Linked DNA regions of Homo sapiens. The protein of the gene in region 2 purifies or fractionates together with the protein of the main gene of each other region. This does not show direct contact. Each region holds a gene or a part of one and is shown on either strand. Other genes may lie near its edges. The genes, in order: FGR and CD24.

Region 1 (3,807 bases), on a different chromosome or scaffold from region 2:
TCTCTGCCAATGTTTCTGTCAGCAGCTGCCCAGCTCCTGCCCTCTTCAGGAAGCCAGAAGGCCTGGGCTCTGCCCCAGCATGACTTCTGCCTTCACTTTCCTTCCTATCACCCCTGGCACACTTACACAACCCCCGTCACATAGGGCAAACCACCCACACCAGCTCTCTTTCACACTCATACTCACCTGACCCACCAGCACAGTCACACAATAACACTCACAGCATATATTTGCATGAGTGTGCGTGCCAACCCCATCACACGCCAATACAGGCTCTAACAAGCCCAAGCTCACAATAGCACACACACATACACATGCACATATACATGGGGTGCCTGCCAGGTTAACAGACGAACACACTCAGACACACATGATTTTGAACATTATAATCATCTCTCTAACAGGATTTCTATCAAGCCATGCTCAGCTCCCTCACAGTCCCCAGTCACCATCTCCTAAAAACCAGTTCTTCCGGCCAGGCGCAGTGGCTCACGCCTATAATCCCAGCACTTTGGGAGACCGAGGTGAGTGGATCACAAGGTCAGGAGTTCGAGACCAGCCTGGCCAATATGGTGAAACCCCGTCTCTACTAAAAATACAAAAATTAGCCAGACGTGGAGGTGGGCGCCTGTAGTCCCAGCTACTTGGGAGGCCGAGGCAGCAGAATCACTTGAACCTGGGAGGTGGAGCTTGCAGTGAGCCGAGATCGCACCACTGCACTCCAGCCCGGGTGACAGAGCAAGACTCCATCTCAAAAACAAACAAACAAACAAACAAAAAACAGTCCTTCCTCTGAACCCTGCTGTGCTCCCAGCCACCCTAGGGTTCCATGTGGTGGCTGAGTGAGAGTGGATACCTACCTCCGGAGCTCTCCTCCTATCCCCATACCAGAGAAAGGACCAGGTCAGAAGCTGGGGCTACCAGAGTACCTTGGGAAGCCCCACAATGAGCCAACCCTTTTCTGGCAGCGGTATCCTCTGAGCAACAGGGCAGGAGGTCATTGAGCAAGGGTCCCCCACACCCTGCCAGAAACATTGCCATTGCAACACTCAGAGAGGAACCGACTGGTGAGAGGGCTTGGTTTCCTAAGATGTGAGAATGGAGAGTTTAGGGTGGGGCCAACCTTGTGAACCCTGATTTGCCCCAGAGGGGCCCCAAGGTCCTAGAAGAAAGGGCCCCCAGCTTCTCTCTCTCGATCCCCAGTCCAGTCATCCTTACAGATATTCTCTTCCTCTTCTCTCTGGGTCCTATCCTTTCTACCTAGCACCACTCACCTCTTCCAGAAAGTCTTCCTGGATCCACCAGGTCCAGTTGCCTGGCTGATGGTTCCGTCACATCAGTGCTTTGGTCTCCACCCTAGCCCCACCTGCCCCTCTCACCCTTTGCTCTAAGTGATCTCTCATGTGTGTATTGGGTGGGGGTGGGGGCATCACACCCATGTGGTGAACTGTGGGGCGGGCTGTGGTGAGAAGCCTGCCCTAAAATAGCCCCTGTTCACTGGGCCCTGCCTGAGACCTTTGCCCCGGGACCCCTCCCTGGGATGAAACCACTGTGTCTAAAACGCCCCAGGATGCTACAGGGCTAGTTAGAGCCAGGGCAGAAAATAGAGGTGGAGGACTGGAAGCCATCCAGGGCCCAGCGGGAGGGATTTCAGGAACTGGTGAAAAGAGAGATGGGGCTGATACAAAAACAAGGGTGAGGCCGGGCACAGTGGTTCACACCTGCTATCCCAGGACTTTGGTAGGCCGAGGCAGGATGATTGCTTGAGCCCAGGAGCTTGAGACCAGCCTGAGCAACATAGGGACACCCCGTCTCTATAAAAAAAAATCTTTTTTTAATTAGCCAGTCCTGATGGCACCCACCTGTAGTCCCAGCTACTCGGGAGGCTGAGGTGGGAGGATTGCTTAAGCCTGGGAGTTCGAGGCTGCAGGAGCTGTGATTGCACCGCTGCACTCCAGCCTGGGAGACAGAGTAAGACCCTGTCTCTATTTTAAAAAGAAAACAGAAAAACCAAGGGTGAGAATAAAGCCTTCTCACAGGAAGACACACATACACACCTCAAATGGCGCACCATGCTGATACCCAGATCCACACAGCCCTTCAGACCCCTTCTCAGTTGGCACATTACCTCAGCTGCCTCATGCACAGGCTCCAGGCTCCTCTGCACAGATTCCTAGCACAAACATCTTCTAGTGTACACACACCCCATATACACACACCTCCAGCCCTCATCCGTCTGCACATAGATGTGCATGCACATGAACACACACACACACACACACACACACACACATCCTCTATAAAAGAATAGCAAATACAAAATTTATAGCGCTTACTATATGCGCTGGCCACTGCATTAAGCACTTTACCTATATTATCTCATTTTATCCACACAACCCTATGATTTAAGTAGTATTATTATTATTAATTTATTTATTTTGAGAGGGAGTTTCACTCTTGTCACCCAGGCTGGAGTGCAATGGCATGATCTCAGCTCACTGCAACCTCCGCCTCCTGGGTTCAAGCCATTCTCTTGCCTCAGCCTCCTGAGTAGCTGGGATTACAGGCACCCAACACCATGCCAGGCTAATTTCTGTATTTTTAGTAGCGATGGGTTTTCACTATGTTGGCCAGGCTGGTCTTGAATTCCTGACCTCAAGTGATCCACCTGCCTTGGCCTCCCAAAGTGTTGGGATTACAGGGGTGAGCCACTGCACCTGGCCTAAGTATTATTATTACTGATGAGGCAACTGAAGCACAGAGAGGTTTGGAAACCTGCCCAGGGTTGGCCAGTCACAGTGGCTCATATCTGTAATCCCAGAACTTTGGGAAGCCAAGGCAAGAGGATTGCTTGGGTCCAGGAATTCGAGACCAACCTGGGCAATATGGCAAATCCCATCTCTACAAAAAATACAAAAATTGGCCAGGCACGGTGGCTTACGCCTGTCACTGCACTCCAGCCTGAGTGACAGTGAAGCTCTGTCTCAAAAAAAAAAAAAACAAAAAAAAACCAAAAAAACTCCAAAAATTAGCTTGGCATGGTGGCACGTGCCTCGAGAGGCTGAGGCAGGAGGACCACTCAAGACCAGGAGATAGAGGCTGCAGTGAGCTATGATCATGCCACTGTACTCCAGCCTGGGCAGCATAGTGAAACTCTGTCTCAAAAAAGAAGGCCACAGACATGATGTATCCTGGTGTTTGGCTCCAGAATCTGAGCTTTCAAGCATTTCTCTCCATTGCCTATCACAGATACAGACAGATGCAGCCATTCCTGCTAGCATGCACAAATGCGGATGCCCCCACACTGTCCCCCCACCCCCCATGTAGGGATACACACACACACACACACACACACACACACACACACACACAGATATACACAGCCCTCTCCGGTGACATGGACCCACATAGAGCTCTCCTCTATAGGAGAACATAGACTTATACAATCTCTCATGTTCACACACAGATACAATATTGCCACTTCCAATAATACCCACGTATATATTGCCACAACATATCTATATCAGATGGAGGGGATCCCTGAATTCTGCATGCCCAGTATGGCTGGAAGGGAGAGACTATCAGCATCTGAGAAGGAAGCTCTGTGGGCTCAGGAAGAGCCCTGGCAGGACTGACCGTGTCGTCAGCAGGCAGAGGTAGGCAGCTCTTGGGTCTTATCACTTCCAAACTTGATGCAGACCAAAGCCCTGGCCAGGCCTGGCTCTCTGGGGACCAGTATGCTGAGGCGTCAGGGGATGTAGGGCACAGGGTATGACATCTGCATGGCCCAAGGCAGGGAGGGGCCAC
Region 2 (3,907 bases):
CAAGGTTCTCCCAGTGTCCCAGCGTCTGAGTGGCATCATTCACCACTGATTTTTCAAGCCACGAAATGCACAGTCCAGTAGGGCACGTGATAATCTCTCCTTTGTCATGGAACAAAGGCAGATCGGAGTTTTCAGCCCTCACTGCAAGGGAGGGTTTACAAGAGCTTCTGATTACAGGCTGGAGGGAGGACGTGGCACCAGGCAAGAGTCTGGGCCCCGTGTACATTTGGCTGCCTATTAATCCAAAGATAAAGCCCTCCTACATCAGCACCAGCTCCTTTTGTTGTAAAATCCATAAGGTCATTAAACAAATATTGACTACAGAAATGTACAAATCCTATCCAAAATAGATTAGTGACAACAACAAAAAAATCTTGATCAAGTCAAATTTATTTATCGGGCACCTACTGTGTGCAAGATTTAGTGTGTCCCATCAGGAAACGGCACTCCCAATAAAGAAAAGCATTAATATGGTAATTTACTTAAAACAGGGTGCCTGTTTTGGACACCTTGTTTGGGATCCCGCAAAGTAACCTGTTCTTTATTCATGCAATGAGTTTTACTGCAGCAGGTGATGTTTTCTTTTTAAAACCTGGTGTATCAATCTGAGGATCTAAAGATCCTCTACACCAACAAAAAAATTATGTTTATTAAACTGACACTAAACAAAATTTTCTCTCCCAAGCTAGATTTATTCGCATTATTAAAACTTCTCACTTACAATGTTGGAGGAAAAAAATCTGGTCGGAGAGAAGATGGGGCGGGGAGTGGAGGGGGCCGGTTTCTCGCAGCCGCGCCCCTCCCCCATCAAAGAATTGAGGAAGGCTCGGGAGCGCAGCGGACTGGGAGGAAGACAATAGGGTACGGTTACCCCGCCAGCGGTGGGGAAGCGCGTTCCACACTCAGGCTGCACTCCCAGGTGAGCCCGGACTTTCGATGTCTGGGGACGGAGGACGCAGCGCGCCCAACTTTGGGGGAGAAGCCCCAGTGACAGTCCTCGATTAACCCCAATCGAAGGCGCTGGAGAGCCGTCACTCCCATCCTCCAAACCCGAACTGACCCAAACAAACGTACCTTCTTCGCCCCCGCCCCCGCTAGGGTCTCCCAGGCCCAGCCCCCGGTCTCTCTCGCCGGCGCGGTGCATCCATACACCCTCGAGGCAGCGCTGCGCGGCCCCGGGTACCCGCACCCGGGGCGAGGTTCCCCGGATGGAGGATCTAGGGAGACCGCGCTGGTAGCGGCGACCCGAACAAAGCCTGGCGGGGACTCGGGACAGAATCGTCCCACCATGCTGCCTCCCCAGAACTAGCCAATCTGGGCTAAAATAACATGGGGATCCTAAGATGACAAGCGATGGACGTGAAAGGTTGCCTCGCAGAGAGCGCAGCGTCAGGAGAGGGTCCCCGCCTCGGCTTCAGCCCGGAACCGGGGTTTGTTTAAAAAGGGCCAGATAGCCGTAGCTTCTCCGGGATACCCAATCCAACTCCGAGGGTGGAGGATGGGCGTGAGCCGCCCTCCCCGAAAGGGACCGTCGCCTCTCTTTGTGTAGAGCGCGGGGAGCGCGAAGACATTCCTAGGGGAAAGCGAGTCCTCAGGGACCCAGGGACAACGTCCCCAGGGAGCCCGAGCTCTCCAGGCGCTAATCCCTGCAGGCACCTCGGGCCTCTGGGTGAAAGTGGGAAGTAGTCACCTGGCTGCCTGGGAAGGGACAGCGTGGAACCTGGGGTGGGGCAGGGTCCTCTCAGCCCGCACGCGGAGCTGCATTGTTCCCAGGGCCGTGGGAGGAGGGGGGGCAGCACGCAAGGGAATGGAAAAATGGGGTCCACATGGCCCTCTCCCCTGGTCAGCTAAGCAAGATTCTCTCCCGGTCCCTGTCCGTGGCCCGAGGCAGGAGCGCAGGACGGTCCCCCGGGACCGGGTCCATCTCCCCTGCCCCCACCCCGGGAACGGCCCTCGAGCCCCGCCGGGCGCCAGGGCCTCACCTGCGTGGGTAGGAGCAGTGCCAGCAGCAGCAGCCCCAGCCCGAGCCTGGCCACCATTGCTCTGCCCATGTCCCCTCCGTCGGTGCGCGGCGCGTCTAGCAGGATGCTGGGTGCTTGGAGAACCGCTGGCTCCGGGCGGGCGCAGGCAAGGTGGGGAGCGCGGCGAGCCGGCGAGACCTTATATACCAGGAAAGCCACAATAGCCGTGACGTGGCGCCGCCCGCCCACCCCGGCTCCCCTCCGCCGCCGCCCGCCGCCTCCCCGCCTTCCCCGCCCCGCTCCGGGTTCCCCAGCGCCCCCGCCGCCGCCGCCACTGCCACCGCCGCTCCGGCCCTCGCGGGCCGGGAGCCCCCCGGGCGGGCGCCGCTGCAGGTGGGCGGGCGCCGCCGGCTGCTGGTACCCGGCTGGTATCCCCGCGCCGGCTGCGGGCTGCGGGCAGGCTGGCACAGGCGCCCAGCGCCTCCGGCACAGGACCCGGGGCACACACGCGAGCCACACACGCCGCGCTGGGGGCCGGGCCCAAGTTTCCTTTGTTTCCCGGGACCTGCCATCTTACCCCCCAAAAGAAAAGTCCGCGCCTCCGCTGCGGCGGGGTAGCCGCCTGTCCTGGAGCAAGTGCATTGCCACTCAGACTGCAAAATGCGCCCCGGGGACCCGAGAGGGGCTGCGAATTCCAGTGCGACCGCGTGGGGGGCGGGCGCCGGGACCCCTCGGGCAGGGTTATCTCTCGGCCCGCCGCAGAGGAAAGGGGAACGCGGCGGGCGTGGCGCGGACGCGGGCCGGACGCTCACCCTGGCCGACGGGACCCGGGCGCCGCCTAGCGCGAACCCTTCCCGGCTGGTCGGCGCTCCTCGCAGGCGGTGTCCGGGTCCGGAGCGATCTGCGCGCTCGGCCCCGCGGCCGCGCCCTCCCCGAAGCCCTTGCTTTGTTCTGTGAGCGCCTCGTGTCAGCCAGGCGCAGTGAGCTCACGGGGGCGTCCCGGGTCCGCATCTTCCCAGGAGCTGGGGAGCCGCTCGCTGGGCGCAGACCCGCTGCCTGACGCTGCAAACTACAGGGTTTCGGTCCCCCGCGCTCCTGCCTGCGGCGGGCGAGGAGGAGACGGCCCACCCTGAGGGGACCCCCTCCGCGGCCCTGAAGCCCCCACCGCCCTCCCCGAGCGGCTCTGCTCCCAGGTTCTACTCGGGGGCAGGAACCTCCCCTCCTGGCGGTCCCACTACAATTCACCGTCCCTCTCGAATTCCTGGGGATACACTTTTTCGGTCTCTGTTGCCCGTCATTCGTTTAAAGAGCAGAACCGTTCGAGATAAAGGCATTTACTTATCCGTAGTTGCCATTAGGCAATTTAATGAACCGGCACAAAGAGGAGATTCGTCATCACTCTTTAGATTTTGGTGGAATACTTTTTTCCTATCCATCTTATTGTGAAAACTTTCAAGCATACAACAAAAGTTGAAGTAATTTTACTGGTGGAGTATTTTGAGTTTAAATTTTAATTGCAAGACTTAATCTTTTTATTGAAGGTTTAGCCCAAGTGTTTTTCAGTCTTTAAAGCAAACAGCAGAGACCAAACCTAGTATGGTTGTAAATTTGTTTAAATTTCAGTTTTGCAGAACACTCTCGTTAGTATTTTTGGTTCAATTTTTAATTGCAAGACTTAATACTTTTATTTAAGGTTTAGCCCAAGCATTTTTCGGTCTTTAAAGTAAACCACAGAGTAGTAAGATTCTAAATTTGTCTAAATTTCACTTTTGCGTGGCAGTCTCATTAAAACAAAGTAAGTTTCAGGGAAGCAAAGTGACAATGAAATCTGCAGTAGGTTTGTTGACTGAATAGTGACTGAATTGGTTTGTGCCTTCAAGGTCAGTCACTTTAGCTCAGTAACTTTCCAAGCACGTTTAAGATGTGCTTGGGAACACAAGAATTTC

Evidence for each region.
Region 1: the proteins of CD24 (region 2) and FGR purify together in Homo sapiens (affinity purification with western blotting, with the first as the bait; one study listed by BioGRID). This does not show direct contact.

Annotation. Positions count from the first base shown.
Region 1 is NC_000001.11:27,625,186-27,628,992, forward strand, and holds part of FGR (tyrosine-protein kinase Fgr), read right to left. Parts: intron 1,413-3,807; exon of another isoform or gene 1,275-1,412; intron 1,067-1,274; exon of another isoform or gene 861-1,066; intron 1-860. UniProt on the Homo sapiens protein: Non-receptor tyrosine-protein kinase that transmits signals from cell surface receptors devoid of kinase activity and contributes to the regulation of immune responses, including neutrophil, monocyte, macrophage and mast cell functions, cytoskeleton remodeling in response to extracellular stimuli, phagocytosis, cell adhesion and migration.
Region 2 is NC_000006.12:106,972,596-106,976,502, forward strand, and holds the start of CD24 (signal transducer CD24 isoform a preproprotein), read right to left. Parts: upstream 2,135-3,907; 5' UTR 2,052-2,134; coding exon 1,983-2,051; intron 1,445-1,982; exon of another isoform or gene 1,291-1,444; coding exon of another isoform or gene 1,075-1,290; intron 1-1,074.